2 separate regions of the Homo sapiens genome follow, and region 2 is linked to region 1. The links come from fine-mapping of genetic effects on gene expression. Tissue or cell type: whole blood. Region 1 holds a variant in brackets; the other region holds the start of a gene. All regions are shown on one strand. Distances are between the middles of the regions. Region 1 has its middle 20 kb from the start of BATF. Region 2 holds the start of BATF (basic leucine zipper ATF-like transcription factor).

Region 1 (2,913 bases):
TCAAACAGTTACAAAAGGATAAAGAAAACATAAGTTTTCCACATCTCCCGGCCTACCCCTAGACTGACTCTTTAGACGTAAACATTTAAAATCAGATCTAGGTTTTGTCCTCCTGTGGTTATAGGCAGAATTCTAAAATATGTTTATACTTCTCTCTCTTAGTTTATCTACTTTAAAGATTGTTTGAAAACTCCTTTATACTTTGAATATTGAGGAATTTAACTCAGTTATATTTCACCGCATGTTCTCCCTCCCAATTTTTATTTTTATATTAAGTCTATCGGAATCTTTATAACTTTAAATAATATACTTACATCTCAATTTCTTGGCCCGTCACCTTTTACAGTATGTCTAACTTACAAAGTGTAAGTTCAGGAAAATACACAAGGCAGACTTCCTTCTGCCTTGTAATGGACACTGTGGTGTGGCGTGCTGCCCAGATCCCTTTCAGGACCAAGGCCTTGATTCCCCAACTTTGGGGAGTGCTGGCAGCTAAGAGGTCTCAGCTGAGTCCCTCTCCAAGAATTGCTTTTGGCTGAAGGGAGTTACCTGGAGATTATGTGAGAGATTATGCCACCTCCCAGAGGGCAGCCCATATCCAGTGACTGGTCAGTATGGGTTATGTGTTATAATGGTGTAGCCAGCCTATTGGCCTCAATGGAGCAACTTTGAAGAGCCATCTGCCTCCTCCCAAACTTCTTGCAGCATTGACTGGGGCCTTGTATCTACTCACTCCTCCCCTGCCTGGTCTTGGCTCCCTCAACTCTCACAGGTGATGTTTCTGAGAACACTCTCCAACAACCTCCCTATACCCAAGTCTTAGAGTCTCAGAGTCTGTTCTCTGGGGAACTTATAAATACCTTCTCTGTATCTCCTATTTCTATTTCTGATTATGGTCAGCTAATAAACAATTACTTTTAATTTTTTTTACTGTGAAATATTTCAAACATACAAACAAGAAAATATAATAATAAAATTAAAACCGGAAGAAACACCACTATAAATAACATTGTCATTTTTTATTCTACCATGACTTTATTATATTACTTTACTATAACTTAGTCTTCCATGCTTTATTCAAAGATTGTTCCTAAGAATTGAAAACAGAAGACAGTAATTACAATAATTTTATTGTGTATTCTTTAGTGACAATCTAAATAGTGAGGTTTGACCTGCAGACAAGCAAATGTAATCCTATGCTATTCAAACTGAGCCGCCTAAAGGGAACTGTTGCAAGATCAAATGTCAAATGGATTTTTTTTATTGTTACAATCTACCAATTGCATAAAATTGTATTACATTTTGGTTTGCTTCTTTTTCAAATTACAACTTTCTATATAGATTTTTACTGGAGTCACCTTTGTTTCATCTTGGTGACAAAATAACATAAACTTTTCCTACTATGATCATGTAGCATTTTATCACCCATTTTTAAAAATTTTTGGGGAAAAAAGCAAATCAATCAA[A/G]AAGTTGCTATACTAGAACAGTGAGCCTCCATTCTGTAATAGGTTCACCAGTTTTAAACACAAACACACACACACACACACACACACACACACACACACACTCTTACATATTTCTTTGTAAGCCATTAGAAAATAACTTGTAGAGAACATGACCTATCAGTCTTAAGTACTTCAGTGTACATCTCCTAAAGACAAGGACATAACCACAATGTCATTATCACACCTAAGGAATTTAACAATAATTTAATAATATCATCTAAGATACTATCTATATATAACTTGTAGATAACATGACACATCACTCTTAAATACTTCAGTGCGCATCTGAAATTAATTCGTTCTGGCCAGGCGCAGTGGCTCACACCCGTAATCCCAGCACTTTGGGAGGCTGAGGCGGGTGGGTCACTTGAGGTCAGGAATTCAAGACCAGCCTGGCCAACATGGTGAAACCCTGTCTCTAATAAATATATAAAAATTAGCCGGGCCTGGTGGCAGGCACCTATAATCCCAGCCATTTTGGAGGCTGAGGCAGAAGAATCGCTTGAACCGGGAGGCGGAGGTTGCAGTGAGTCGAGATCTCACCACTACACTCCAGCCTGGGTGATAGAGCGAGACTCTGGCTCAGTAAATAAATAAATAAATAAAAATAAAATTGATTAGTTCTGCTTCTAATAGAACTAATTGGCCACATTCAAGGGCTCAATACCCACATGTAGCTAGTGGCTATCATGTTGGATGGTGCAACTTGAGGCAGTACCCTGATGCCCACCTTCATTTCTGCTCCGTTTTCTACTCCAGTCTTGGCACTTGCACGTTACTAGTTTTAGCCAAGGCTCTTTCCACCATGGTTTCTCTCTCACGATGGTTCTTTCATTTTCTCTTACCCAGAAATTATTCAGGCTGTCTCCTGACCTGCTCACATTTCTCCCTCCCATTATTAAGCTTTGTTATGAATCTGTTTCTCTCTGCATGTCTTCTCTGTCATCTCAATGGCACGTGAAGCACACGAGCTTAGTAGTCTGTCTTGGATTAGAGATGTGAGGGGGTTTTAAGAGTAATCTTTAGATAATAATGGAATTAGAAAGCCCACTGGTGCATCTATTTTCTCAGGCCTTAACTTTTTTTTTTTTTTTTCAGACAGAGTCTCTATTGTGCAGTGGCAGGATCTCAGCACACTGCAACTTCTGCCTCCCAGGCTTGAGTGATCCTCCCACTTCAGCCTCCAGAGTAGCTGGGACTACTGGTGCACACCACCACTCCCAGCTAACTTTTTTTTCTTTTCTTTTCTTTTCTTTTCTTTTCTTTTCTTGTGTTTTCTTTTCTTTCTTTTTGGAGAGATAGGGTTTTGCCATATTGCCCAGGCTGGTCTCAAACTCCTGAGCTCAAGCAATCCACCCGCCTTTGCCTCCCAAAGTGCTGGGATTACAGGCATGAGCCACCATGCCCA
Region 2 (2,913 bases), 20 kb after region 1:
TTATTTTCCTCCATAGGAAAGGAATTTTGTCTTACTTAATTTAACCTTAGGGCAATATTGTCTTAGTCTAGAAATTCAGCTCATGGATACAAAAATCCTCTAGGAGCCGTAACTTCCTGTCAATCCTAAAATTTAATAAGGCAAATGTTTGGCTTCGAGCCATACTGGGAATAAGGTAAGGCCTTTTGAAAAAGCCACGATGCCCAGGTGAGGGTTGAATTGATCACTGAGAACCCTACAAATGCGCTCATGGCAAGGCTGGGAATACCCTACACTTACCCTCTCGGTCATTTACTTCAGAGTCTGCGGGGCATTCTAATCCGCGTTGTCATTTGCTTTGTGCCACATTCCTAAGAGGTAGGCAGGGCAGGTTTTATCATCCTCTGTTTACAGATGAAGATAATGAAGGTCACATAGCTCAAGTGAGCTACCCAGGGCCACAGACATACAAAGTGGTAGAACCAGAATTTAAATCTTGGTTGGTCTGACTCCAAGTGTAGTATTTGTTTCACTTTTTCTTTCTTTCTTTCTTTCTTTTTTTTTTTTAACTGTTTCTGCATTCTGGGTTCTGACCAGGTGACCTTGAATCATAAAGATTCAGGGCCTGTCTTGAGCTGCTCAATATGGAAGGCATCTTTTCTCTAAAGAGTGTGAGCTCCCTGCCAAGCAGCACAGGCGCTTAATAGGCTTTCAGAGCAGCAATTCTAGAACCTCCCTTGTGGCTTTCTGATCTCCCACAGCCCTTGTGTTTGATGGTCAGGAAAGGAGAATACCCTTGGATCGTCTTATCTCCAGACCACCCCGAGGCTGGCTGGACTTAAGGGGTGAGGAAAGACAAGATGGGTGAGCAGCTGCTTTCGGCTGAAAACCAGAAAGAAATCCCAGTGTTTTTGCTTTATTTTGGTTTAAAAATCAAGTCGTATGACAATGGAAACATTTTCCTGGTTGTCCTCTCCTCTCTGCCCATGTTGACAGAAGACGGACTTGCTAATTCTGGCTGGGGTTTTTCCCTGCCTGGGCTGTTTTTCTCTTTTATCTTCATCAATTGAAGAGGGCTGCTGTGTCTTTCAAACTGTCGGAAGGTATCTGTATTTTTTTTTCTTTCACATAATTCTGTAGGTCTTTTCCCAGATATGTATTTTTCTCTCTAACTTCTAACTCGCTGAAGTTTCCGCCCATGTGACTTCCAGCGTGAGTTACCAGAAACCACAAGAGAGAGAGAGAGCGTGCAAGCCCCAAAGCGAGCGACATGTCCCTTTGGGGAGCAGTCCCTCTGCACCCCAGAGTGAGGAGGACGCAGGGGTCAGAGGTGGCTACAGGGCAGGCAGAGGAGGCACCTGTAGGGGGTGGTGGGCTGGTGGCCCAGGAGAAGTCAGGAAGGGAGCCCAGCTGGTGACAAGAGAGCCCAGAGGTGCCTGGGGCTGAGTGTGAGAGCCCGGAAGATTTCAGCCATGCCTCACAGCTCCGACAGCAGTGACTCCAGCTTCAGCCGCTCTCCTCCCCCTGGCAAACAGGTAGAGTCCTCCTTTTTCTCTCTCCTACCTTCTGATTCTCCTGGGGGATGGAAAGAGAGCCAGGCTTCCTTGTCCTGCCCAGGGAGCTGAGGATGGAGGAAGTGGCTCGTTGCACGGGCACTCTGTTAGACTTAGGACATGGAATTTGCTACTAAGCTGTGCATATTGGCAGAGATCCTCATCCTTCCACCCATTCTGCCAAAGCCCCTTTTTCTCTCCATTTTCCAAGGCTGCCTATCACCTCTGCCTCACTGGGGTTGCCACCCTAAAAAGCTTTCTAGGAAGCAAAGAGGAGGATGAACATCAAAGAATGCAGAGAAAAGAGTCTACTGTTCTCCAAGGCTGTAGAAAAGTGAGAGGAGTTTTCAAGTGGGCCGCTGGCATGCACAGCTCAAATCCTAGATATGCAGTTTCCCAGGAGACAGCCAATAGGGAAGGGGAGAAAAGGGGTTAGGGAAAAGTTAAAAAAAAAAAAAAAGAAGAAGAAGAAGAGGAAGAAGGAGGAGGAGGAGGAGAAACCCAGGCTAGCATAGAAGGATCTCTCTACTGGGGCACTGCCTCTGTTGCTAGCACAGCCAGCAAGGGGAGATGCTAGAGGTCCAGCCAATATCTCTTTGCTTGTGGCTTCTGGATAGGAGCAAGGAAATGAATGAGGAGGTGGCTCTGGAAATTTGTTGGAAGACATTTGCTGGTAGTTCATCTTAGCTCTGGGGAAACCAGAGAGACTGAGATAGGGATTGTGGGAGCATTTGGAGTCTAGATTGTGACTTCCAAGTCCAAAGGTTTTAGCTTGAGGATTACCAAAAAAGGAGTGCCCTGCCCATCTCACAGCTTCTAGGGTTTTGTTCTGCACCACACTCTTGACATCCCTTGCTGTAGGAAGCCCTCCTCTTTCTCATCCGACATGTATCCGTGGGTTAAAATTTTCTCAACCTTCATAGTTTAAAAACTTCATTCTTTCCTTAGCACAGATATCCACAAGGGTTTTCAAAATGCTGCAGCCAAAATAAAAGTATATAAATATTGAACAGGGCGTATATCCTAAGCCTCTAATAACGGAGCAGCAGGCTGGGATGAGTCTGGGTGGAGACCTCTAGAAGGCACAGAATCCAGTCTGCTGCTCAAGATGGTGTCAGAGTGGCTCTGACTGCCTGGAAGTTTGTACTTTTCTTAGGAAGGAAATTACTCATGGCTTCCATGGTAACCTGGTGCCCCATCCCCCTTAGAGGAAGAGCACTTCCTTCCTATCTATGCCAATGACCTCCTACCACAAAGGCCTGAAAGTATTGGACATGTTGGTGAGCCCAGTACTTAGTGATCCCAGAGCTTTGCCCTTGGATCTGTGCCCCTCTAGCCTGTGGGAGACGTGGAAGGGAACAGGGCATGAGTTGCCAGGACT

What was found.
Region 2: it holds the start of BATF, and the variant in region 1 is fine-mapped to the expression of BATF in whole blood (TOPMed, PIP 0.96).

Annotation. Positions count from the first base shown.
Region 1 is chr14:75,500,799-75,503,711 of GRCh38, forward strand. No RefSeq gene overlaps it. Among named protein-coding and RNA genes, the nearest start is that of BATF, 20 kb to the right of the region's middle. The variant A/G (reference allele first, on the strand shown) is at 1,467.
Region 2 is chr14:75,521,232-75,524,144 of GRCh38, forward strand. It overlaps BATF (basic leucine zipper ATF-like transcription factor), which reads left to right and starts at 1,238. Exons shown (of 3, transcript NM_006399.5): 1 at 1,238-1,514. The coding sequence starts at 1,452. RefSeq lists an enhancer at 1,206-1,535.